4 linked regions of the Homo sapiens genome follow. The protein of the gene in region 3 interacts with the protein of the main gene of each other region in a pairwise test. Each region holds a gene or a part of one and is shown on either strand. Other genes may lie near its edges.

Region 1 (7,028 bases), on a different chromosome or scaffold from region 3:
TTCCAGCAAGGAAGTCTGACAAGTGTGGTATTTCATTCCCGGGGTCACATGAGATTGGATCACCAGAATGGTGCTGAAATGCTGATTTGAGGTGACTCAAATCGTTTATATAGACAGAGGCCCCACAAATGATATCACATCCTCAAGGCAGCCTTGCTGGGGGCATCAGAGAAGCCATAGCTTCCCTAACTTGAGCTGGGTTTGGAAGGATAAACAGGGGTTCACCAGGCAGTCAAGGAGGGAGGGGAACAGCATGGGCACAGGCTCTGGGAGGTGAGGTGACTCAGCCCAGGTCACCCAGGCAGTAAGAGGTGGGTGGCAACTGGAAGCCTGGTCCTCTCTTCCCACCATGTTGAGTCCTTAACCCTGGAGCCTCCCATACCTTTGGCATTGCCAAGCTTCCCTGATGATCTCTTCCCTGAAAGGACTTGGCACCCAGGAGCCCCTCATCCCAGCCCACTCACCTGGTGGTGGGGAAATGGCTGTTGCCTGGACTGGCAGGGCTGGCATCTTGGGTGAGGCTCTGACCTGGGCCTGGGGAGGAGCAGGGAGCACTGGTCAGCTGTGGCCAGGACCCCAGGAACCCCAGAGCCTGGAGCTCCATGAGGCCAGGGTCTGGGCATTAGGGGTGTGAGTGGGCCCGGGGTGTGGGGGGAGTGTGCACCAACCCTCAGGGCTCAAGATCACGTAAACGTGGCCTCCGCAGATGTGTCTTTTCCTGGGAGGAAGTTCTGGGGGACTGTGACCCACCCTATGTCACAACCCATTTACTGCCTGCAACAGGCAGAACATCAAGGCCCATCTCCCAATCAAGTTCTCAGCTGAAAAGTCTCCATTTCTCAAAACCCACTGGAACCACAGAGTGCTGGGATGGAGGAGGAAGGGGGCTTCTGGGGGCTAAGCAGACCAATGCCTATGCCCACTAGTCTTGTTTCCTCTGAAAGCCTGCCTTAGAGCATGGAGCCCGCCCATCCTGGAGGGAGGGAGAGCTGGGCCTGGGCAGGACAGAGCAGGCATGAGAGAGGCATGCGTGCGCTGCTTGGTCTTTTCTATTCTTGCTGTAACGCCATTGGCATTGCCCCCTGGATGTCTTCTCTGCCCAGCAGGCCCTGCAGTGGACACCTACATGCCCTGAGGCCTACGGGAATCTCCAAGTGGCCCCAGTACCCAGCACCTTCCAGGGTAATCCCCAAGGTCCCCTTCAGGGAATCCAGGCCAATGGGGCCTGGCGACTTACCTGAATGGCTTGGTCCACTTTTAGGTCCTCTAGAGATGGGTACAGGGATGACATGGCTGATTCTCAGAACACCCTGCAGAGTGCAGAGGGTGGGGAAGGATAAGGATGCAGCTGATGCCCCCTTGAAAGGAGGCACAGACATCCGCAACAGCAAGCGGGTTGGAACTTAATATTCAAACAGAAAGGCAGCAGGGCACTTAGAATGCCTCCCCGAACTCCACCCCTAATCCCCTGTCGATATTTGAACTCTACTGTATTCCACTCATCTCCAGCCTCACTGTCAACTTTTAATCTTGGCCACAATGAAGTAAGACCAGTAGGAAATTTATAAAGACTCTCACACAAACTGTAGCAGAACTTAGACACTCAACAGGGCACTGCTCCAGAGGGAGGAGGGAATGGGGGGTGGAGAGGCACCATGAGCACTTATTTACTAAACACCTTCTCATTGTCCCAGGGAGAATCAGCAGGACCTCTGAGCAAGGTGCCCCGAGAAAGTGAAAGGAATGATGACCTCTTAAGAAATGTTTTATTCCCTTCCTGACGAAATGTGGGGAAGGAGCAGTCTGCCTTTCTGGGTTCCTTCCCTTTACTCACTAACCACTGGCTCTGTCACACCTCCAGGCTTCGCTGAGGCAGTCCACTCCAACTGGAGCCCCTGCCCAACCTCCTTGTCACCCTCGGTTCCTGTGGGACACGCCTCCCCTGGCTCCCAGGCAATACGGTCACTGCCCCTCCCACCCAGGACCCTGCCCTCCGGGACAGCTCCGGGACAGCACCGGGCCAGCCTCTTGCTTGAACTCGCCACTTGTCCTGACTGCAGTTCTGAGGGGTAAAGGTGTGTCCTATTCACCCCACTGAACTCACATGTGATGGGTACACATGATAAAGGAATGCCCGCTGGTGGCACAGGAAACTGAGGGTCCTGTGCCTGAGCGATGTGACTCCAGGCTTCCCAGGATCAGATCCGCTGGGCACCTCCCTGAGTGACCACAGGCACGCCGAGGACATACTCATCCATCACTGCTCCTTCTCCTCCCTCTGCACCTGCTGCCTTGACCCCTGTGTCATCCTTGGCCCCGCCCCCACTATCCCTTCTTGTCTGTCATCAAATCCCATCTCTCCCACATCCCGTGTTGTGCAGGTCCCCATCATCTCCCTGGCCCTCTCCAGGTGCCATAACACCCTCCAAACACACTGCTGCCTCCCCTCCTGCCGTCCTGCTGCTCTCCAGACAGCAGCCACCAGGCCCTTTGTGTACACACTTGGGATGTCATGCCCTGGCTGAAAGCCCGCCAGTGGCTTCCCTGCCTTGGGAATGTACTCTCCTTAAAGAGGCTCACAGGGCCTTCACGATTCCACCAGAGATTGGAACTGGTGGGCCCAGGGCCAGATGGAAATAGATTTTATTTGACCTTGTGGAGTACTGTAAACGTTCAGATTAGCAGCTTAAACACAAAGCTCAAGGTACTGGATTTAATAATCGAATTTCCCACTGCTCCCAAAAAACAGGAAGCTTTGGCAACCCTAGGCTATAGCAGAGTAGCTACAATTGAGTAGCAGCAGACTCCAGGGTGACCCAGTCCACCATCCTCTATTGGCTGTTACACCCAGACCATTGTACTCACTGGTGCCAAGTCCCAATAGATATTTGTTTGCAACCCTAGTCTACCTCTCCAGCTTCATTTCTTGCCTTACGTCCTTTCAGCTGCTACTTTCAACTCCAGCCACAATGAGCTACTTCCACGTCCTTGCATGTGATTCCCTCCTGTCTCTTTTGCATGTGTTATTCCTTCTATCTGGAATACCCCTCCTCTCCCTGCTCCTTGCTTGGCCAACTCCTAATAATTTTCAAGTCTCAGATCAGGGAGCTCCTCTTACAGGAAGCCTGCTTTGATTTGTGCTCCCCCTAGCCCCTGCTCCATGTCCTACTCCTGTTGAGTATTCACCACTCTTGTGGTTGCCTCTTTACTTGTCTGTCTACCTCCTTAGGAGTTCCAAGATGGCAGGAACAGGGGCTTCTCATTTGCTGTGAAGCCTCTAACCCCTAGCATGGAGGCTAGCTCAATAATATTGCCAGAAGCAACACATTCTACCTGGGCTTCCACTTTTCTCCTTGTAAAGTAAAGCTCTAGTATCCTAAGAACACCCACCTTCCTGGATGAAACAAGGACCAGAAGTCCCAAATGTGCCTCTCACAGTCCTGTTTTATTATTATTATTATTTTGAGACAGAGTCTCACTCTGTTGCCAAAGCTGGAGTACAGTGGCGCGATCTTGGCTCACTGCAATCTCCAACTCCTGGGCTGAAGCCATCCTCCCACCTCAGCTTCCCAAGTAGCTGGGACATAGGTGCATGCCGCCACACCTGGTTAATTTTTGTATTTTTTGTAGAGACAGGGTTTCAGCATGTTGCCCAGGCTGGTCTTGAACTCCTGGGCTCAAGCAATTTGCCCGCTTCGGTCCCCCAAAGTGTTGGGATTACAGGCCTGAGCCACTATGCCCAGCCTTTTGTTTTTAAAATCTGAATTAGTGCCAATATTTAAAAATCTGGAAACACAAAATGCGTCACTTCTTACTTGGATTGAAAAAAATATAAACATTTGGCAAGGCAAGAGCTGGAATAGTGCATGGCAACACTCACCCGGCTGAGTCACAGCCTACCTCGCAAATGGGGCTGTACGTGCTTTCCTGTTTCCGCAAGTACCCATCAGCCCTTCACTGATTTACGTTGCCTGCTTGGTTCCTGGAGGCAGCCAGTTCCAGACCCTGCCCTAGCCTGGCCTTTGGGGTAGAAATGACCATCCCAACAGGACAGGAATTTCCTGGGAGGGGAGGGAGTCTGGCTCTGACTTCCTTTAGACCACCTGGGGGAAGAGACCCCTTTGCTTATAGCCTTCCCCACTGTGTACACACACTATGAGATTTTTAATCTTGGGACAGTCCTGAGCAGCTATCATCTGCCAAAACATGACCTGCCACCAGGACCACGCATGAACAGCAGATGCGAAAATAAGCAGCCACTCCTGCCCTGATTTTCCTAACATTTAACCAGTAGAGCACTTATATTTTTGTCAGCTGTCCCCTGGGAGAGCAGGGAGTCAGAGATCCATTTCCTGGAAATCACTCCCGGGCCAGATCACATAACCCTTTTTCTGTGTCTGAGATCCTTTCACCACTGCCACCTTCTCTGGATCCCATCTTAGTGCTGGGATGCGGGGAAGTGAGAAAACAGGTACAGTCGTTCCTTGGGGTAGGTTCCAGGACAATGCCCCTCACTCCCCATCCCTCGGATACCAACATCCACAGCTGCTTATGTCCCTTACATAAAGTGGCATAATATTTGCATATAACTTATGCACATTCTTCTGTATACTTTAAATCATCTCTAGATTACTTACAATACCTAATGCAATGTAAATGCTAAACAAAGTTATATTTTATTTTTATTTGAATTTTTGTTGTTTTTTTTAATTTTTATTTTTAAATATTTTCTGTCTACAGTTGGTTGGATCCATGGATGTGAAACCTGGGGATAGGAAAGGCATACTGTATCCCCTGCCTTGTAGCAGCTCACAATATAATGGGGAATGGTTCCCTGCCAGCGAACATGCTGTGTTTCGTTCAATCATTCAAAACATTTGAGTGTCCACTGTGTGCCAGACGTGCTGGTCCCTCTGCTGTGCACATCATCCTCCTTGGTGTGATGCTCCTTCGAGGCTCAGTTCAGATGCTACTTCTCTGCTTGGCTTTTCCAGACTGCATGATACCCAGGCTGCCTGGCTGGGTCTTCCCATGTATTCCACCCCTGACCTGTACTGCCCCTGTTGCCAAGCTATTTATCAAATTATGTGATTAATATCTGGGTATTTTCTTACACTGGACCTCACTCATAAGGGCAGGAGCTCTGTCCCGTTCACACACGATCCTTCCCCGCCACGGCACTGCCCAGCACACATATGCTAGCAAAAATTATTTGACTGAATAAATCAGTGGTTTTCCAAGGAACAGATTGGAAATTTATGTGGGCATTTTTGGGTGTCACGAGACTGAGGGGACAGTCATATCCCTGTCGGGGGTGGGGGGGGCAGGGATATGAAACTCCTGTAATGGATGGGACAGTCCATTACAGTCACCATAACAAATGGTCCTGTCCCGCACAACTTTCAGATATCCTGCCAAACTTTCAAGTAAGCCAAAAATCCGTTATAATTGGTTGTACATACAATCACAATGAATTTTTCCCTAGTTTTAGTACACACTAGACTGTCTGGAAATGCATATATCAGGTTGGTTGTGGGGAGTTACACTTTGCTCACCATTCTGGAAAATCGCTGCCCACCCTGCTCCCCACGGGTGAGTCACCCGAACAGCATGCTCACGTCTGTGTACATGTGTAGCTGTCACAGTGACTCCGCGCTTTTATATAAATATATTTAGCCTTTGACTCAAGATGTCAGATATAAACTGTTGGCAAAATTCAGCTGAATATTGTCTTCTAGTAAACCTAAGCTGATTCCTAAGTTGGGTACAAGCGTGATCGGGTGTAAGCCAGCCTCAGCTTTTACAAAGTGAAATGCATATTCTTTTATTAGAAATTACTTTCATGTCCCTGCCTTCTCCTTATAAACAAAGGGCATCATATTGATTTTTTACCCGGGGAACCATCACCTGGGCTGCAGCCTCAGGACGAACCTGTGCCTTCCCTCTGTCTCAATTTCCTGCTTTGGGAAATAGGAGCCACAAGCCACAAACTCCATCCACCGCGCCACAGGAGCGAGGTCCAACGCAACGGTCCCTAGGGCCTGCCTCCAACCCAGCCTCAGTTTCCTATCTGTCACATCGTTCTATGATCTCGAAATGACTATAACCCCTTTCTTAGCCCCAAACCAGCCGGAAGCGACATCTTCCGGTTGCTACAGGTTACGGCGGTTGCTATGGGCTACGGCGCCTGCGCAGAAACACCGCCAAGCGACTCAGCAACTTCTAGAGCGCATGCGTTTCGCCCACCCAGGCCCGGGCGCGGTTAGGGGTGACTCCCACGATCCCTAGCGGCTGCAGAGTGGAACATGGCGGCCTCCTTGCCGCTTGCGTTACCAGAGTCCACCCGGCCTCGTGCTTTCTCCGGGCGCCCGTAGCTGGCGCCGGCATCCACAAAAATAGATCAGGTAAAGCAGCAGAGTAAGGCATAGGAAGACTTGGTCGGGCTCCGCGGCCCCTCTTTACCGGATTGGAGGCTGCGCGGGTGAAATCGAGCTTTAAACTCCCCTGGCCTCGGAACACCATTTGTAGCCTCTGAAGGAGGAGGACTTATAAGATTCTGTACTAAGGCAGCCGTGGGAAGGGAGGAGAACCAGGTCGGCCCGCGCGCTCCCGGCTGCTTTTGCTCTCCCTTTGGTTTCGAAAGCGTCAAGTCCCAAGGTATTTCCTACCAATTGTGACGTCACCCTTCCTCCCCCGTTTCTCACCCGTTTCTTGTCTGGCCGTGACTTCTGACCCAGTGTTGAGCTAAAAATGCCCCGCCCCACCCTACGCAGATTCACCCCGCGTCCCACCCACCAGTGACTGAGTGACTGGGCTTCTGCTGCCTAGGGAAGGGTTCTTGGCTTGGCCGGGCAAATCAATTCCCACAGCAAAATCAGACCGAAAGCCTGTTATGAGGGACTCAGGCAGTTGGATGTGGCGTATAGGAGGAAGGCTAGGGCAATCAGGAAGGTCTCCTGGAGGAAGGAAGAAGACCCTGACTGGGCCGTGTAGGATGGATGTTCAAGTGGGAAGAGAGTGTGCTATTC
Region 2 (6,831 bases), on a different chromosome or scaffold from region 3:
GTTACTGATTCCCCCACCCCTCACTGTGTAAATGCACCATACCCTGCCCGGGTGCCCACTGGGAGCACTGACATACCTCAGCCCTTCACTCACATTGTACTGACATTGACTCTTCTGTCCTTCATGAGCACCAGCTGAGAATGAGGGTGTGGTCAAGGGGATCTGCAAAGGGGATGTGAAGAAAGGTGGCAGAAGGATGGTGCAGGGAGTCAACGTGATGGTACGTGTCACCCATAGGCCATGTGGGGAAGAAAGAAGGGCTGGGTGGTGCTCCTGGACTCAGATCACCATCAAGGAGAAGGCAAGGAGATATGAACAGAGCTCACAGGGATGGTTACTATGGACCAATGATAAGGGGCCTTGGCTGCCAGATGAAGGTGAAACACTGGCCACATTTCTGTGTCAGGAGAGACAAAACTAATATCTCAAGATTAACTTGGCAGGGTGCTCAGAGGAATGGTGGGAGATGAGATTCAAAGCAGGTACAGCACTAAGGTGCCTACCACGTGGCAGCAGAAATGGAGGAGACATGGGCGATGGGGGTGACAAGGCCCTCTGTGACTGCATCTGCCTGCCCTTACAGTGCAGATGCCCAGTTTCCTCGAGGGAAACCTCTCCCCATCCAAGTGGTGATGTAATAATCTGCAATATTTATTTAGTTCATTTTATTTAAAAATACTTTAAATTCTCATTGTTTCTGAATAGGGGCATAGTCACCTCAAAATTTAAAAGGTAAAAAGGATTTATGGTGAAAAATTCCCCAAACATCCACACAGTTTCCCTTGTTTCTAGTGTACCGTTCCAGATTAATCTAGGTTTACACAGCAAATATATAAACATATGTTTGCCTTTTAATGATAAATTACACCCAACTATGCTATGGCTTCACACCTTATTTTTCTCACTTCATTATGTGTGGGATCTTGCTTACCAGGACACAGAATAAATGCCCCCTCTCACCCAGGTCCATATCCTAATCCCTGGAACTTGTGCTTATGTTACACTACATACCAAAAAGGACTTTGCAAAGGGAATTAAGGTTATGGACGTGAATTACCCTGGTGGACCCAATCTAATCAAATGAGCCCTTAAAAGCCTGAGAAAGATCTGAGGGCCACATGGAAGGACCTCGGAGAGCTAAGGATCACTCAGGCTGGCAGCCAGCACTTCTGAGGACCAACCTCAAGAAAAACAGATTCGGCCAACAGCCTGAACAAGCTTGGAAGTGGAGTCTCCTGGCTAGAGGCTAAGCCTGCTCTTTAGGAGTCACACAACTGGAAGAGCCAGCCACCACCCTCCCATAGCAAGCAGCCACAGGATGGGCCCTGGCCGATCCCTCAGCACCTTCCCCCTTGGGGAAGAACTGGCCCAAACTCTCCTCCCTTCCCAGAGTACCTCCTCCACACGCAGAGCGACTCCACTACTGACTGGGCCTCCCAGGCAGGACATCTGAGGCTGAGCGAAACCCCCTTTCTCCCCCAGCTCTGCTCAGTGCATCTCTGACTTCTCATGGAACACCAGGAACCACGAACCCACCCTTGTCTCCCATGCGCTGGGAACCACCCCATCGCACTGCTGCCCCATGTAGGGAAAAGAAAGAAAGATCAGACTGTTACTGTGTCTGTGTAGAAAAGGAAGACATAAGAAATTCCATTTTGACCTGTACCTTGAACAATTGCTTTGCTGAGATGCTGTTAATTTGTAACTTTGCCCCAGCCACTTTGCCACAACTTTGAGCTCACAAAAACATGTGTTGTATGGAATCAAGGTTTAAGGGATCTAGGGCTGTGCAGGATGTGCCTTGTTAACAAAATGTTTACAAGCAGATGCTTGGTAAAAGTCATCGCCATTCTCCAGTCTCAATAAACCAGGGGCACAATGCTCTGCGATAAGCCACAGGGACTTCTGCCTTGGAAAGCCGGGTATTGTCCAAGATTTGTCCCCATGTGATAGTCTGAAATATGGCCTCATGGGATGAGAAAGACCTGACCGTCCCCCAGCCCAACGCCCGTAAAGGGTCTGTGTTGAGGTGGATTGGTAAAAGAGAAAAGCCTCTTGCAGTTGAGATAGAGGAAGGCCACTCTCTCCTGCCTGCCCCTGGGAACTGAATGTCTCGGTATAAAACCCGATTGTACATTTGTTCAATTCTGAGACAGGAGAAAAACTGCCCTATGGTGAGAGGTGAGACATGTTGGCAGCAATGCTGCCTTGTTATTCTTTACTCCACTGAGATGTTTGGGTGGAGAGAAACAAATCTGGCCTACGTGCCCATCCAGGCATAGTACCTCCCCTTAAACTTAATTATGGCACAGATTCTTTTGCTCACATGCTTTTTTTTGCTGACCTTCTCCCTATTATCACCCTGCTCTCCTACTGCATTCCTCTTGCTGAGATAATGAAAATAATAATCAATAAAAACTAAGAGAACTCAGAGACCGGTGCCGGTGCAGGTCCTTAGTGTGCCGAGTGCCGGTCTCCTGGGCCCACTGTTGTTTCTCTACACTTTGTCTTATTTCTTTTCTCAGTCTCTCGTCCCACCTGATGAGATATCCCACAGGTGTGGAAGGGCAGGCCACCCCTTCACCCCGTCGCTCCGCCCGAGCTCGAATGGTGGCACCGACAGGCGGGAACGCCACCAGCCTGTGGGCGGAGTCCTGGCTCGGCCCCTCGCGGCGACCTTACCCCGGGGTCTCCCCGGAGACCCCCTACCGGAGGCAGCCCCCAGAGGCTCTGACCTCCAGCCCAGGCCGAGCTGCCCCCGCCCCGCCCCCCCCGCGCTCCCACAACCCCCCGCGCGGCTCCGCCCCCGCCCGGGGTCCCCAGCTCGCTGCCCGCCCCGTCTGAGCCCTGAGAGGCCCCTGGGCCCCCCAACCACGGGGGCATCAGGGACAACCAGACGCAGGGTCCCAGGCGTGGAGCTTCGCGGAACTAACCTCAACGGGTCGCGCTTGGAAAGGAGGCAGCACCGTGGCACGAAGACGTCTCAGCCAACGCCGGCTGACCCCCGGAAGTCCCGCCCCGAATTCCGGCCCGCCGCTCGTTCTATCTGGGGCAGCGTAGCCTCTCTAGATGGCGGGAGGCCGGGGCGACTCTGTGGTTCAGCCCCAGACCTGGTCCCACTAGCCCTGAGGCCAGAGACCCTTCTGTTCCCCTTTTTTTCAGAGTTGACCCGTGCACTGAACAAGGCGGCAACTGAAGAAAAGGGGACACTAATAGAAATGCAGAGATAATGAGATATACTCGTGTAGTGGGAGATTTTAATATACAGGCCCCCAGAATCGGAACAGACGGTAGTTTGATAAAAACCTAAGGATACGTTTTTTGGAAGAACTGAATCATTCAATCAGTAAGTGATTAGATAGATAAATGGAAGAATTCAGATTCCTTCAGTAGATAACATGTTTTCGTGAGATTGTGCATGGATCGTTTCTAATACGGAAATGAATTGTACACTTGGACATAAAGAATACAAATAAGGCTGGGTGCGGTGGCCCACGCCTGTAATTCCAGCACTTGGGAGGCCGAGGCGGGCGGATGGCTTGAGGCTAGGAGTTTGAGACCAGCCTGGGCAATATAGGGAGACTCCATCTCTACAAAAAATACAAAAGTTAGCCAGGTGTGATGGTGTGCGCCTGTAGTCCCAGCTACTCAGGAGGCTGAGGTGGGCGGATTGCTTGAGCCGGGGAATGTGCGGCTGCAGTGAGCCGGGATCACATGTTGCACTGATGAGAGAGTGAGACCCTGTCTCAAAAAAAAGAAACAAACAACAACAACCAAAAAAAACCTCACAAATATTTTGACGTTCATTTTGCAGGCAGATTAAACTATCAAAATCAGGAATACATAATAAAAAATGCATGACAAACTCTATTGGAATTTAAGAAACACTGTCTAGATAACCCCCCCCCCTTTTTTTTTTAGTTCAGGCTGAGGTGCTCTCAGTTGGAGATGAGGAACTTATTGGAAGCTGGAGTAAAGGTCACTCTTGCTATGCTTTAGCAAAGAGATTGGTGACATTTTGGCCCTACCCTAGAGATCTGTGGAACTTTGAGCTTGAGAGAGATGATTTAGGGCATCTGGCAGAAGAAATTTCTAAGCAGCAAAGCATTCAAGATGTGACATACCTTTTTCTGAAAGTGTACAGTCATATGCATTCACAAAGAGATGGCCTGAAATTGGAACTTATGTTTATTTTTTTATTTATTTTTAATTTTTTTATTTCCATAGGTTTTTAAATTTTTATTTCCATAGGTGGTGGTGTTTGGTTACATGAGTAAGTTCTTTAGTGGTGATTTGTGAGATTTTGGTGCACCCGTCACCTGGGCGGTATGCCTTGAACCCAATTTGTAGTCTTTTATCCTTCACGCCCTTCCTGCACTTTCCCCCTGAGTCCCAGTCCCCAAAGTCCATTGTATCCTTCTTATGCATTTGCATCCTCATAGCTTAGCTACCTCTCACGAGTGAGGACATACGATGTTTGGTTTTCCATTCCTGAGTTACTTCACTGAGAATAATAGTCTCCAATCCCATCCAGGTTGCTGTGAATGCCATTAATTCACTCCTTTTTATGGCTGAGTAGTATTCCATCATATATATATGTATGATGGAATACTACTCTCTATATATGTATAGATATATACATATATACACACATATATACACACACACATATATATATAAATATATATATGCTACAGTTTGTTTATCCACTCGTTGATTGATGGGCATTTGGGCTGCTTCCACATTTTTGCAGTTGTGAATTGTGCTGCCATAAACGTGCATATACAAGTATCTTTTTCGTATAATGACTTCTTTTCCTCTGGGTAGATACCCAGTAGTGGGATTGCTGGACGAAATGGTATTTCTTGGTAGTTCTACTTTTAGTTCTTTAAGGATTCTCCACACTGTTTTCCATAGTGGTTGTACTAGTTTACATTCCCACAAGCAGTGTGGAAGTATTCCCTTTTCACCACATCCACGCCAACATCTATTATTTTTTGATTTTTGATTATGGCCATTCTTGTGGGAGTAAGGTGGTATTGTTTTGTGGTTTTGATTTGCATTTCCCTGATCATTAGTGATGTTGAGCATTTTTTCATGTTTGTTGGCCATTTGTATATCTTGTTTTGAGAATTGTCTGTTCATGTCCTTAGTGCACCCCCCACTTTTTTTTTTTTTTTTTTTTGAGATGGAGTTTCACTCTTGTTGCCCAGGTTGGAGTGCAATGGTGTGATCTTGGCTCACTGCAACCTCTGCCTCCTGAGTTCAAGCAATTCTCCTGCCTCAGCCTCCTGAGTAGTTGGGATTACAGGCATGCGCCACCATGCCGGGCTAATTTTGTATTTTTAGTAGAGATGGGGTTTCTCCATGTTGATCAGGCTGGTCTCAAACTCCCAACTTCAGGTGATCCACCAGCCTCGGCCTCCCAAAGTGCTGGGATTACAGGAGTGAGCCACCACGCCCGGCTGTTAGCCCCCTTTTTGATGGGATTATTTTTTCGTGCTAATTTGTTTGAGTTCCTTGTAGATTCTGCATATTAGTCCTTTGTTGGATGTATAGATTGTGAAGATTTTCTCTCACTCTGTGGGTTGTCTGTTTACTTTGCTGACTCTTCCTTTTGCTGTGCAAAAGGTCTTTAGTTAAGTCCCACCTATTTATCTTTGTTTTTGTTGCATTTGCTTTTGGGTTCTTGGTCATGAAATCTTCGCCTAGGCCAATGTCTAGAAGGGTTTTTCTGATGTTATCTTGTAGAATTTTTATATTTTCAGGTCATAGATTTAAGTCCTTGATCCATCTTGAGTTGATTTTTATAACGTGAAAGATGAGGATCCAGGATTATTCTCCTACATGTGGCTTGCCAACTATCCCAGGGCTATTTGTTGAATAGGGTGTTCTTTCCCCACTTTATGTTTTTGTATGCTTTGTTGAAGGTTAGTCGGCTGTAAGTATTTGAGTTTATTTCTGGGTTCTCTATTCTGTTCCATTGGTCTATGTGCCTATTTTTATAGCAGTACCATGCTGTTCTGGTGACTATGGCCTTATAGTGTAGTTTGTTTCATGTGCATCCATGTGAAGAGACCACCAAACAGGTTTTGTGTGAGCATTATTTCACCTGGGTGCAGGTGGGCTGAGTCTGAAATGAGAGTCAGTGAAGGGAGATAGGGGTGGGGCCATTTTATAAGATTTGGGTAGGTAAAAGAAAATTACAGTCAAAGGGGGTTGTTCTCTGGTGGGCAGGAGTGGGGGTCACAAGGTACTCAGTGGGGGAGCTTTTGAGCCAGGATGAGCCAGGAGAAGGAATTTCACAAGACAATGTCATCAGTTAAGGCAGGAACAGGCCATTTTCACTTCTTTTGTGGTGGAATCTCATCAGTTAAGGCAGGAACCAGCCATCTGGATGTGTACGTGCAGGTCACAGGGGATATGATAGCTTAGCTTGGGCTCAGAGGCCTGACATTCTGGTCTTCTTATATTAATAAGAAAAATAAAGTGAAATAGTGGTAAAGTGTTGGGATGGTGAAAATTTTTGGGGGTGGTATAGAGAGATAATGGGTGATGTTTTTCAGGGCTGCTTTGAGCGGGATTAGGGGCAGCGTGGGAACCTAGAATGGGAGAGATTAAGCTGAAGGAAGATTTTGTGGTAAGGGATGATATTGTGGGGTTATTAGAAGAAACATTTATCATGTAGAATTATTGGTGATGGCCTGGATATGGTTTTATATGAATTGAAAAAGTAAATGGAATAAGAGAAGGAGAAAAACAGGTATAAAAGGTCTAAGAATTGGGAGGACCCAGGACATCTAATTAGAGAGTGCCTAAGGAGATTCAGCA
Region 3 (7,028 bases):
CATGATATAAACTGTGTATGTTACACATACTTGTGTATATTTAGTATACACAGAGAACACTGAAAAGGATACATCAAACTGGTAATAAGTGTTACACATTGGGAATGAACTGAATGGGGGAAAGGATATGGGTCTTTCACTTTTTCCTTCAAATACTTCTGTCTAATTTGATTTTTTTTAAACAAGTATCTTATTACTTTCATTTTTTAAAGTGCAGGACATTAAAGCTGAAAGGCGCCCCTAAAGACTAGCCAGTCTATCTAGAAACAGTGACTCACATATCCAAGGTCAAAGAATAGGAGTAAAAGATTTAGAACTCCTGACTGCTATTCTGGTTTCTATTAGATCCTGGTGCCAGGGGAAATAACTGCCATCAAATAATAAGCCTGTACTTGCTACCCTTGAATATTCATCATCTCTAACTTTACAGCCACCTCACAAGATTATACTCATAAAGAAAAGAGCTGAGAAAGAACATTCCCAAAACTATACCCACCACATCATGCTACCAAAGTAACAGTACAAACCCATACAAAAGACGAGAGGCAGATTCCCAGGTGTCTAATGGGGCAGTATGAGCAGATTTTAAGCACGGCATAAATCTCTTCTTTGAATTTCAAATACCTATATTGCCTCTGTAAGGTTTCTAAGAAGAGGGAGAAAGTATGGGAGGAGAAAGAGAGCAGAAAAGGATGCCAGCTTCCAACCAGCAGCCTCAGAGCTATAAATCTAGCTGAATGATACACCAGGTCTTAGAAGCTGGCTGTGAAAAATGGTGGAAAGAACACTGAAGCAGGTGTTAGATAGACCTGGACCTGAGTTCTGGCTCTGCCATTTACTATTCTGCATCCGTGGGCAAGTCATCTGAACTCACTGAGGCCTGTTCCCTTCAAATGTAAACTGGAGATAAGAATAACATCTACTGGCTGGGCGCGGTGGCTCATGCCTGTAATCCCAGCACTCTGGGAGGCCAAGGCAGGTGGATCATGAGGTCAGGAGATCGAGACCATCCTGGCCAACATGGTGAAACCCTGTCTCTACTAAAAATACAAAAATTGGCCGGGTGTGGTTACGCGGGCCTGTAGTCCCAGCTACTCAGGAAGCTGAGGTGGGAGGATCGCTTGAGCCCAAGAGCTGGAAGTTGCAGTGAGCCATAATCCTGCCACTGCACTCCAGGCTGGGCAACTGAGCAAGACCCTGTCTCAAAATAAATAAATAAATAAATAAATAAATAAATAAATAAATAATCTCCCCCTCTCCCCAAAAAAAACACCTATGGTGACAAGTTAATGAGATAGTATCTAAGGCTTGGACAAGTTGAAAGCCACTTGTCCCAGATCGCATAGGCGCAGTTGGGATCTTCATGTAGATCATATGAATGGAAATCTCCTGAGTTTTCCTATGTAGCACATGGCCCCTCTTTCTGTATGGTAACAGGAGGCCTCATGGTATGGTCATTAGAACAACAAATTTTGGAATAAGATAGAATTAAGTTCAAATTCTAGCTCTGCAACTTAACTCACTATGTGACTTAGAACAAGGGATTTAACTTTTTTGAACCTCAGTTTTCTTTTCAGTAAACTGGAAATAATAAGTACCTATTTCAAAGGATGCTATGAGGTTTAAACAAGATAAGCACTAACTATAGTGCCTGACACATTATAGGCACTTAGTGGGAGCTATATGTATTTTTCTCTCATTAACTCCCAGGATGTTCTGACAGCCTGGCCAAGCATCTACAGGAGACAAGTCAAAGTTTTAAGAGAAGATGAAATAACAATTCTTCCTTGGCATCTCCAATGGAGTAGAGAGAAGGCAACAAAGCTTCTCAGACCCACATTACCGAGCTATAACAACCATGGCTGGGAGGAGCTGAGAGTTGGCAAATCAATAGTTTAGCTATGTTGCTGAACCTTCCTGGATGGCAAGACCATGGAAGTCCATCACAAGATATTATGGGGTCAGGAGCCTCACTGGGTTCTGCCCCTTATATAGGTGAATATCCTGGGAAAGTAAAAATGAAAATACAGAGTCTGGCACCAGTTCCCTGCAAGCCTGGTCCAGCCTGGATAAAGAAGTGAGGAGAGTAATAATACTGCCTTACACCTAAACAGTGCTTTAGTTTATCAAGCTTTTTGCATCCTTATCTTACAATAATAGTCTGTAGAGTCAAACTTCATGAGTTATTATTCCCATTTTACAGATGGAAAAACTGCAACTCAGAAATGTAAAGTGAGTCGACCAAGGCTAAAGCGGCAAAACCACTATACTTTATAACACAGAGTTTGGCACTATTTCCACTTTGTTCTCTCTCAAAGATGAAGGCTCAGGAGGAGGGAAGATAAAAACAAATCACTGGAGAGTCCTGGCATGCTGGAACATGGACTCTAGCTAGCAAGAAGGGCTCAAGGAGGTGGCCTTCTCCTAGACCTCAACTTTGATGCAAAAGCTGTTTTGCAGCCTGAACAAAGACAATCCAATCCTCCAGCAAATGGCGTCATTTTCCCTACGTGTCTAGCCTTGAGCTACAGAACAAAAGAACAATCACATCCGAAGTTGTAGTTCGCCTGGTTGCGGTGGCTCACGCCTGTGATCCCAGCACTTTGGGAGGCCAAGGTGGGTGGATCACCTGAGGTCAGGAGGTCGAGACTAGCCTGACCAACATGAAGAAACCCCATCTCTACTAAAAATACAAAATTAGCTGGGCGTGGTGGCACATGCCTGTAATCCCAGCTACTCGGGAGGCTGAGGCAGGAGAATCGCTTGAGCGTGGGAGGCGGAGGTTTTGGTGAGCCAAGATCGCGCCACTGCACTCCAGCCTGGGCAACAAGAGCGAAACTCTGTCTCAAAACAAAACAAAACAAAACACGCACACACAAAAACAAAATTAGCCGGGCGTGGTGGCACATGCCTGTAATCCCAGCTACTCGGGAGGCTGAGGCAGGAGAATTGCTTGAACCCGGAGGCAGAGGTTGGGGTCAGCCAAGATTGTGCCATTGCACTCCAGCCTGGGCAACAAGATGGAAACTCCGTCTCAAAAAAAAAAAAAAGGTTGTAGTTCAAAAGCAAAGTTGGGAGTTGGGGTGGGGGAAGACTGAGAGCCAGAAGATGAACCAAGCTTCTGCTCTCTCAACTTCATTCAAGTGAGAAGGGAAACAGAAGATAATGGGTTAAAAAAAAATGACATGGATTCAAGTATCAGATGGAAATAGAAAATTAAACATAAAACAGTTTTTAAATGGCATAGGAGTGTGAGCCCATGGCGCAGGTCAAGGGGGCACTGGAAGGAAGCCACTGGTCAAACATCTCAAAGACTGCTCTCTAGGAAAAGCACATATCCCTTGTTAGAGCAGCTAGTCTACCCATTTTCACTATAGTTCTGAAACAGGATAGCAGCAGCCCAGTGTGACAGAAAAACAAAAATAAAAGCAAAAACTGAAAAAAGAGAATATAGCAGTGAACATTTATTGAGTACTTAATTTTCTATTTTATTTATTTACTTATTTTTAGGATGGAGTCTTGCTTTGTCACTCAGGCTGGAGTGCAGTGGTGTGATCTCGGCTCACTGGAGCATCTGGCTCCTGGGTTCAGGCAATTCTCCTTGAATCGCTTGTAGTCCCAAGTAGCTGGGACTACAGGCGCATGCCACCACACCCAGCTAAGTTTTGTATTTTTTTTTAACTAGAGTCGGGGTTTCACCATATTAGCCAGGCTGGTCTCAAACTCCTGACCTCAAGTGATCCACCTGCCTCATCCTCCCAAAGTGCTGGGATTACAGGCATGAGCCACCACACCCAGCCAGTACTTAATTTTCTAAAGGCAGGTGGATCTCTTGAGCCTAGGAGTTCAAGACCAGCCTGGAAAACATAGTGAGACCCTGTCTCTACAAAAACAAACAAACAAAATTACCAGTAACCTCCACGTGGCCAAATCTAGTGGTCAATTATTGGGTCTTATTTACTTGGTCAGTCAAGATGGATACAGACCATCTTACCTAGAACACATTCATGGTATTTCTACCACATTTTACATTCTCTTACTTTTCTACAAACTTCCTTGGCTGTTCCTTTCCTGTCTTCTTTGTTAGTTCATCCTCATCTCCATAACCTCTAAGTGTTGAGCACTCTGGGGCTCAGTCTCTTCCCTATATTTACTCTGCAGGTGATCTCATGAACATAAATACCATCTATATGTAGATGACTCCCAAATTTATATATCTTACCTGGGCCTCTCCCTTGAACTCCAAACTATATATCCACTGTCTACTCTATGGTCTACTTGAATATCTGATAGGCAACTCAATTTCTATGCCCCGCCCCCTCCCAAACCTAGACTCTCCCAGCTATCTTTCCATCTGTGTAGACAGCAACTCAAACTAAACTCCTGACTGCTCCCTACTCCCACACTTACTTCTCCTGCATTCCTTCTCTTAACTCAAATCTTCCAGTTACACAGTCCAAAAATTTTGATGCCATCCTCACCTGCTCTTATATCTTCAAAATATATACACACTTCAACTCCTTTCTCATCATTTTTGCCACTGTCATTCTAGTCCAAGCCACCATCATCTGGATTATCTATCAACTCACTGCTTCTACTCTTGCTTTCTGACCATCTAAGTTTCTACATAGCAGCCAGAATAATTCTCTTAAAAGGAAGTCAGATCATGTCATTCCTCTGCTCAAAACCTCTAATAACATCCATCTCACTCAAGTGAAAGATGAAATCCTCCCAATCACCTATAAGGCCCCAGTGATCTGGGTTCCTTCTGATCTAACTTCCTCTCCTACCACTCTCTTTTCATTCATTTCACTGTAGCCACACTGGCGTCCTTAATGTTCTTTAATCATGCCACACTCTTTCCCAACATCAGCTGTTACATTTGCTGAAATGCTCTCTCTCCACTTACCTGAATAGCTTGTGTCCTCACTTCCTTCTGATATCCACTCAAACAACACTTTATGAGAAAGGCCTGGCCCAGGCCAGGCGCGGTGGCTCACGCCTGTAATCCCAGCATTTTGGGAGGCCGAGGTGTGTGGATCACCCGAGGTCGGGAGTTCAAGACCAGCCTGAACAACATGGAGAAACCCGTCTCTACTAAAAATAGAAAATCAGCTGGGCGTGGTGGTGCATGCCTGTAATCCCAGCTACTCGGGAGGCTGAGGCATAAGAATTGCTTGAACCCAGGAGGCAGAGGTTGCAGTGAGCTGAGATCGCACCATTGCACTCCAGCCTGGGCAACAAGAGTGAAACTCCGTCTCAAAAAAAAAAAAAGAAAGGCCTGGCCTTACCATCCTATCTAAAATGAAAGTCACCTGCTCCCCACATCCTCATTCTAGGACTCCCTATCTCCCTTAATCAAATTAATTTTTCTCTATAGCACTTATCACTACTTGATACATTATTTTTACTATTTTGTATTTGTTTACCAGTTTATTATCTGTGTCAATCGACCCCATCCATTAGAATCTAAGTGCCATGAAGATAGGGATTTTACCTGTTTTGTTCACTACTTTACCTGCAATGGCCAGAACAGAGCTTAGCACACAGTAGAAGCTCTATTAATGAATGAAGCTGGAGTATAGTGTGTGGGAAGAGACTGGTGGGAAATGATGCTAGGAAGCTGGGCAGATTGTGAAGAGTCTTAAAGGAACTTAGACTTTATGTCATAGAAGAAAGCGAACCACTGAAGGCTTCTGAGTAGGCAACACTGGGCAACGCTCTCTGCTGTATCTGAATAGGCAGAGAATGTGTCCCTGAGTGGGCTCAGGACTGGCAACCTTTCTCTATATAGGCACCAGAAGAAGTTCTCTGGACAGCAGGACAGAGCCAACACTGCAGCCAAAGAATGACATTCCTATTTCTTGTTCTTCTATATATGGTACAGCAGAAAATCATATGGTAAAATCAAAAGAAAATTATATTCTGAATCAAACATATCTAAAGTTTACTATAATCAGTGGGCAGCTTGGTCCCCAAGGCACTTACTTCTTCATAACATAACACCGATTCAGAAAGACCTACGATGGCATATGATTAATGAAAGAGGCCAGTAAAGCACAGACCACAAGTTCATCAGAAGATTATCCAGGGATTCACTACAAAACCTCCATTCCTATTTTACCAACCACTTCATAGCCCATTTCCAATTGCAACACACAGTTTCCTTTTATTCTAATTATGCCCAACAAAAATTATTTATAACATTCAGTCACTGGGACAAAAATTGTTCATGGTGCCAGATGCACACAACTAAATCAATGCATCCTGGACTTGTGGGAAAAGGCATTCAATACATGTATGTTTTAATGAAAAGACGTGGGAAGGCTCAAGGTTAGGAAGATCTGTTATTCTTACTCCTGCCCCTGCTCCTTTCATTATCGCCCACTGCCAGCAGCAGGAGTCAATACCTATTACTCTGCAATCTGAGGGCAGGTTTCACTGAGTGAAGACACCCAAGGAATGACAGAGAGCACAGATTATGAAGTCTATCTATTCACAGGTAGTTAGTGCATGTATTCCTATTAAGTACCAGGCATTATTTGTAAAAGGTGACATCCTTTCCTTATCCTGGGCTATTTCTGGTGGTTCCTCAACAGGTCTACCATTTTCTGTCTTCTTAGAGGCTTTGCATTGTCTTCCACTAGACTATAAAAAGTGAGGTAATGAAACAGACTTGTGAAGAAACGGAGATGAGAACCTAATGAGACTTTCCAGTTCTAGTCCTAGGTGGCCTGACTACACTGCATTTCCTGTCCTTGGATGTCCATAAAATCAAATAACCTCCTTGGAATGTGTTTCTATCCTTTACCACCATACATAGCTTGGCTGCTTATCTTTCTCCTTATATGATTAGCCGCTTGAGTGTAGGTACCATATGATCTTTATTTCATGAGTTACTTTTTTAACTGTTAGAAATGCATTAACTGAACTTACATGAGTTACTATCATATATGCCCTTCCACACGCCAGGCATTCCTACTCTCCACTGTCCAACTCAGGAGCATGGACTGCTAAAGGCATGTTCC
Region 4 (7,028 bases), on a different chromosome or scaffold from region 3:
GGAGTGAATGGTTCTGTGTTGTTGGAGTTCCAGGTGCCACTGGAGTATGAAGAAACACTCCTGCAGCTAGTTTGGTGTCTGCCCAAATGGCCACCCAGTTTTGTGCTTGAATCCCAGGGCCCTGGTGGTGTAGGCACCCAAGGCAATCTCCTGGTCTGTGGGTTGCAAAGATGGTGGGAAAAGCGTAGTATCTGGGCTGGAGAGCACCATTCCTCACAGCACAGTCTCTCGTGGCTTCCCTTGGCTAGGAGAGGGAGTTCTCCAATCCCCTGCACTTCCCGGGTGAGGCAACACCCCACCTTGCTTCAGCTCACCCTTCATGGGCTGCACTCACTGTCCAACCAGTTCCAGTGAGATGAGCCGGGTACCCAATGCAGAAATCACCCGCCTTCTGCGTTGATCCCGCTCGGAGCTGCAGACCGGAGCTGTTCGTATTCGGCCATCTTACCAGCCACCATATATCAACATTTCTTATTGAGGCAAAACAAATCAACTCAACCTCACCACCAAGTTTGTAAAAACTTCAGAACTTCCAAGGATTAAATGTCAATACTGTTGCCACAGAGGCTTTGACAGGTGGTAACAAGTAGCAGCTAACAGCCTTTCCTTCCCAAATGAGGTACATTATAAGTAGTATAAACATTGATGTAATTTTTCTTAAGTGGTCTCTTTAATTTGGAAGTCTTTGTTCCACTTCTTTGCTTCTCCTCTCACCTACCACAATGACTATCCTTTCTTCTTGGCACACAGAGGTAGGCTGTGTCAGCTGGAATAGCTCCACTCATCAAATTGAAATAATCACTTAGGAAGTCTTTAAACATACACATTTGTGCAAGTTTACAAAATCAAAAATTTTCTCTAAGCAAACAATTACTACTAATACGGACTGTCATTTTCTTTGAATAAAACCTATGCCCTCCAACAAGTGCTCTGAGTTGAATACAGCCTCTTAGTGTGTGCAGTCTCCAAAAAATATAACATTTCCAAAAATTGAATTTCCAGACTTTGCCTTATCCAAGCTGTTTTTAAGTTATACCTCTTTCCCTTGCTTCTTCCGACCCTTTGGACAGTTTAAAGATTATTATAAAGTCTATAATAGCGTATTACAAATTTCAGTTTCACAACATTAAGTTCATTTAGTTATTTTTTTCTAAAAGGTGGTTGAAAGCACTTAGTAACTAAGGCAAAATATGAAACAGTAAATGACTGGACTGACTGCACTGGCTCCCTTCATCTTAAATATATGTGTGTATGCATGTATGTGTGTGTGTACCTAAGATTCCAGAAGAAAATGGGTTACCTTTTGTTGATGCTGAATTCTCTCTTCTTCAAGTTGCTGGGTGAGTTTTGCATTTTCGTCTAAAGCTTTCAAAAGCTGCTGATCAGGGATGGAGCTCTGCAGCAGAAGGTGGCTTTGTCTCTTTAGCTTGTTTTGCTCAATGAACATCTGCAAAAGTTTGTTACAAGAATGTATATATCAATCAATCTCACATACCTCCTCAACTGTAACTTCAGCAAAAGAAAAGTACATGGAATTTTTATTAAATCATTAAAGGCAAATTCTGACTTCTATAAGTTTTAGAAGTAGTGATTGCTATGATTTCATTCCTTTTATATAATCTTTAATACCTTTACTCCTGCCCCAACAAGATATTTATACAATAAGCTGGTCTTACTCTTCAGTTTTTAATATTTTATTATTGCTTTAAGATACATTAATATTAATAGTAGTAGCTAATATTTCTCAAGAATTTACCTTGTGTACTCCACTAAATATTTTATATGGATTATTTTAATCCTTACATCAATCCTATTAAAGTGCTTCTACTATGAATAGGTAACATTTACTAAACACTATGTGATAGATATGGTGGGAATCATTTTACATTCATTATATCATATAATCCTTAAAACAACACTATCAAGTAGACACTACTATCATCTAATTTTACTAATAAGGTAACTGAGGCTCAAAGAAGTTAAGCAACTTTCCCAAGAACACACGTAAGTGACAAGACCAGGACTTAAACCCATATCTGATTTACATGCCCAAGCTCTTAACCATCTGGCTAAGTTCCTCTACTATTTGCTAGATCTAATGTTTTGTTTTAAACTAATTAGTTTCTCCCTAGTGATAAAAGTAGTTAACAGTAGAAGGGTAAAGGGGAGAAGGGAGACAGTATATTTTATTGAGCACTGTATTAAGCAATTTATATGTTATTCATCAAATCCTCACAACTTTACATGATTGAAAATAATATTGATTTCTATTTACCTGTTATTTCTTTTCCTTAACACTCTACCCAATTTGGCCAGTGAGTGATTCCAAGTATGAAATGTTTTTGTAAACTCTGAAATCTGGCCTACCAATTTTATAATAGAGCTTCACCTTTTCAGATTTTTAACAGCATTTTAAAATTTACATTATAACTTAACTGAAAGCTCTGAACTGCAAAATGATTTGCTAAAGCCCTCATATTAGTTTGTTCAACAACTTCACCCATCATGTAACAGAAAAAGTCAGCAAATAAAACTCAGGACAAAAATATTTTCCATCAACCTCCATGTGGCAAGACCACAGCTTTAATGATTTATACAATCCTTAAGCTCTTGATCAGTATCGACTTCCACATCAAAGTCAAGTCATGAATACAGTATACTAAAACACTAACATTTTCTTCCCAGTATGTCTTCCTATGAAAGGGAAAAAAAGGTCAGAAGCTTTCCTTCTTTGCCTAGGGATTTATGAAAAGCCTACAAAACTACGACAGGGTTCTTCTGCAGAATTAAAACACATTACAAAGTCAAACAGGTAAATAAACAATTGCATATACATGAAACCCACATTCTTCTTCCATTTGTGTGAGAGTGAGAGGTATAGAGACTGCAGTGAGGAAGAGTATGTGCATGTACACTTGGCTGGAGAAGGGTGAGATGCAGCTTCAGCATTCTAAGAAAGAGTAATCAATATTTCATCACAGTATCTTAAACTTCAGACCAGTGATTTAATTAAAATGAATTGTTTTGGGTGACCATTATGATTACAGTAATTTTTTTTTTTTTTTGAGATGGAGTCTCGCTCTGGCACCCAGGCTGGAGTGCAGTGGCACAATCTCGGCTCACTGCAACCTCTGCCTCTCAGGTTCAAGTGATTCTCGTGCCTCAGCCTCCCAAGTAGCTGGGACTACAGGTGCCTGCCACCATGCCTGGCTAATCTGTGTATTTTTAGTAGAGATGGGGTTTCACTATGTTGGCCAGGTTGGTCTTGAACTCCTGGCCTCAATTGATCCCCCCGCCTCGGCCTCCCAAAGTGCTTGGATTACAGACGTGAGCCACCATGCCTGGTCAAAAAATTTAATTATGTTGAAGAAATTTAAAATTTTAATATAGTTATGAAGACAACTGATAGTTTTCTTGTTGAGGGGGATTAAGTTTTTGGTTTTGTTTTTTAAATGAACTAGCGGGAGTTAAGAATGGGGGGTAACTTTCAATTTTTATTTTATACATTTAGAAAATATTTGTATCTTTGTGCAAGGCACACATACTCCTTTTTAATTAAAAATATAAAGTAAATTAACCTTAAAAATTGATTTCTAAGGCTCTAGACTATAAGCTCCAAGAGGGTAGGGCTCACATTTGCTTTCTTCACCACTGGATTCCCAATGTCAGCACAGTGTCTGGCACAGTAAGATGTTTGCTGCATGCCCTAAGTGGTAAGTAAAATGCAAAAGAATGGGACTCTGTTGTTAAACTAAGTTATGTGTCTTTGTGCAGTACTTACCTGTTGAAAACCTGAGAATGCATAAACTTTGTAAAAAGGAAAATATACTAGTTCCAACGTGGTGCTATTTTTTAAAAAAAAGTTTTCTTCTCACTATTGTGTAGATTGAATCTAGATATTGTAAAATTGTTGAGTGCCACTGCAAATATTTATGCTGCCAATAACGTAAGTACCATTGCTCTTGCTTTCTTTCTCTCCTCAAACTTCTACCTTCTCATTCTGGGTTAACATGTCAGCATTATTGTTTCCACCAACCACTAAGACTGAAGACCAGGTGAACAGCAGAGTCAATCATTCATTTTTGTCTTCTTACTGCAACCTTGCTTCTTCCATCTGTCTTCTCTGCTACCACATGGCCTTCAAGTTTTTCTTTGAGCTGCTTTGTATTCTAACATCATTGTGCAAACAACAGATGGAAAACTGAACATGTCTTGAAATGAGACCTGCTATTCAGGTCAAAATCAGCCGACCTTTCCAGTTTTGCAATAAAGGCATCTTCACATTATCCCTGCTTCCCCTCCCCCTCCACTGTTTATTTCACTGCATTATTTATATTGCTCCAACGTTTTCCAGAGAGCTCTGACACACTTCAATTCTTTTTTCTTTCTTCCAAGTAATAAGAGAAAAATATTTACTCACCTTTCATTAAACTCTCTAAATAAAACGAATCATAATATTTCAAATCAGATCTACTTGGCCTAAACCTTCGGTAGAGTTCACTGCTAGCACAGCTATGCTCAAGCACAGAAAGACCCCCACAAAACCATCATTGGATTTTCAAATGTCATTCCCCTAATGCCATGCTTTGTCTTCCTTCTATGCCTTGGATACCTCTACCTAGGACTGTTTTACATTTCCTGAGCTATCTTCCTTCAACCTACAGTATGCACACAAATTCAAACTACACCCACAGGATGGAGATCTCATTGCAGACCAGCTTTTGAGTTTAGCCCATTGGTGAACTCCTCATCCCCCTGGATGAGCCCCAGGGCCATGGAAGACCCAACGACTGCATGTCAACAGGTAAGCCGGAACAAGAGATTCAAAGCTGATCTCTAACATAAGAGGAAGATCAGTAGGCTGGTGAAACGCTGAGATAATGAATGTACTACATGGCAGTGTTCCACAGCCAGTGGAAGAACTTCCTGGCATAATGACAGCACTGCACAATGGCTGAAGAGAAATACTGATACCATAATACTGTTATCTGAGATGGTATATGGAGATACATCCCAGATTTTAAGCCTATTTGAAATGTACAGGCATCTTGTACCCAAGTTGGACTTTCCATCACAAGTCATGGGTTGTCTCCAAATGCAATTCCTTTCCCTTACATAGCATTTTATAGTTTATACAACACTTTTTTTAAATTTTGCCATTAAAATCCACTTGGTCAGGTCTGTATTATTGTCCATTTTACAGATGGTAAAAGTGAAGCCCTGAGAGGCTGAAGAATTGCTCAGAGGTCATACACTACTACAACTAGTAACTGACATGGCCAAAATTTGAGCCCAGATCTTTTGACAATGAACTTGATACTATTCTATATCTGCCTCCCTAAACCAGCAGATCCTTAATTCAAACTGGTAAGTTCTTATTCAACCTCAAGAATTTGTCTGATATGTCGTCTGCAAGGTCCCTTACAAAACAAAAATTCAAAAGGTTTTTACGGCTGGGCACGGTGGCTCACTTTGGGAGCACTTTGGGAGGCCAAGGCGAGCAGATCACGAGATAAGGAGATCAAGACCATCCTGGTCAACATGGTGAAACCCCATCTCTAATAAAAATACAAAAATTAGCTGGGCACGGTGGCGTGTGCCTGTAATCCCAGCTACTCGGGGGGCTGAGGCATGAGAATCGCTTGAATCAGGGAGTCGGAGGTTGCAGTGAGCCGAGATTGCGCCACTGCACTCCAGCCTGGTGACAGAGCGAGACTCTGTCTCAAGAAAAAAAATAAGATTTTTACAAGATACCCACCTCTTGTGCAAATGACTCTGCTTTCTTTCGAAGGTCCTTCTCCAGCTCCAGGTTTACTTGCATCTCCTCATACTCTTCTACAGCTAACATGGACACTTAAGAAGATAAAGGAAAAAAAAAACCCAGACAATAAGTCACACAAATAATCAGGAATATGGATGAAAAACAGTGTTGAAAAGATTTTTCATACCAGCATACAGGTACCCTCATGCATTCCTGGTTGGCATACAAACTGATAAAACCTTTTTGGAGAGCAACTTGGCAACGTGAATCAAAAATCTAAAACTATTCATACACTTTGAATAATCCCACTTCCAGGAATGCATATGCTAAGATTGTAACACATGAGCATATACAGACATTTGGTTGCAAGGATGCTCTCTACCTCATTGCTGATAAAAGTGAAATGACATAATACTCTAACACAGAAGAATGAGTAAATTGTAGTACAAGAAATATTATTCTGCCATCAAAATTATATTGTAGAAGCATACTTAGTAAATGGAAAGACATCTGTGATGTATTTTTAAAAATAGATTGCAAAAATTAGTGCAAAGTGAATTCATTTTTGTTCTTTAAAAGCCACAGATAAAGCACATCAACAGCCATTTCACAGAATAGAAAATATACAAAAGGCCAATAAACATGTGGAAAGATGCTCATCTTCATTAGGAATCAAGGAAATGCAGAGTAAAAACACTTCTTACACCCATCCAAGAGGCAACTGGTAAAAATTTTAAAGCATGGTTTTATTAAATTTGGTATGCAGTGAAAAAAAACTGAAGATAAAATTTGACATTTGGCATGTGTCTTAAAGCAACTCTTGGACATGTGCACCAGATGACATGTCTAACATTTTTTATAACAGCATGACTCAGAATAGCAGAAATATGGAAACAGCCCAAAGTCTACCAATAGGATACTACTTAAAATAATTTTAGTGTAGTCATCTAATGGAATAGTATATAGCAGTGAAAACAAACATACCACAGCTATGCCTGTCCACATGCATGAATCTCACAAACACAAAAAGTTGCAGAAGGTTACAGGAAAAATGATTCCATTTACATAGAGTTCAAAAATATGCAAAATTAAACAATGCTGTTTAGAGATATAGACATATTTGGCAAAACTACAAATAAAAGAAAGGAAATAATAAAAATTCAAGGGAGGGGTAAGAGTAGAGAGGGATGTTCATGGGTTTGTAAGGTACCAGCAAGTATAAAGAGATTCCTTTTACTGGTATTTCCTCTGTCTTCCATATATATAT

The links.
Region 1: the proteins of ZCCHC17 (region 3) and SDCBP2 interact in binary tests that used the Homo sapiens proteins (3 or more experiments, as listed by UniProt).
Region 2: the proteins of ZCCHC17 (region 3) and ZNF16 interact in binary tests that used the Homo sapiens proteins (3 or more experiments, as listed by UniProt).
Region 4: the proteins of ZCCHC17 (region 3) and SHTN1 interact in binary tests that used the Homo sapiens proteins (3 or more experiments, as listed by UniProt).

Annotation. Positions count from the first base shown.
Region 1 is NC_000020.11:1,319,126-1,326,153, forward strand, and holds part of SDCBP2 (syntenin-2), read right to left. Parts: intron 6,745-7,028; exon of another isoform or gene 6,705-6,744; intron 6,658-6,704; exon of another isoform or gene 6,218-6,657; intron 5,245-6,217; exon of another isoform or gene 4,741-5,244; intron 2,076-4,740; exon of another isoform or gene 1,311-2,075; 5' UTR 1,292-1,310; coding exon 1,238-1,291; intron 535-1,237; coding exon 465-534; intron 1-464.
Region 2 is NC_000008.11:144,947,864-144,954,694, forward strand, and holds the start of ZNF16 (zinc finger protein 16), read right to left. Parts: upstream 3,018-6,831; 5' UTR 2,934-3,017; intron 2,761-2,933; exon of another isoform or gene 2,539-2,760; intron 163-2,538; exon of another isoform or gene 77-162; intron 1-76. UniProt on the Homo sapiens protein: Acts as a transcriptional activator. Promotes cell proliferation by facilitating the cell cycle phase transition from the S to G2/M phase.
Region 3 is NC_000001.11:31,356,006-31,363,033, reverse strand, and holds part of ZCCHC17 (zinc finger CCHC domain-containing protein 17), read right to left. Parts: intron 3,447-7,028; exon of another isoform or gene 2,237-3,446; coding exon of another isoform or gene 2,204-2,236; intron 1-2,203.
Region 4 is NC_000010.11:116,939,166-116,946,193, forward strand, and holds part of SHTN1 (shootin-1), read right to left. Parts: intron 5,854-7,028; coding exon 5,759-5,853; intron 1,448-5,758; coding exon 1,301-1,447; intron 1-1,300. UniProt on the Homo sapiens protein: Involved in the generation of internal asymmetric signals required for neuronal polarization and neurite outgrowth.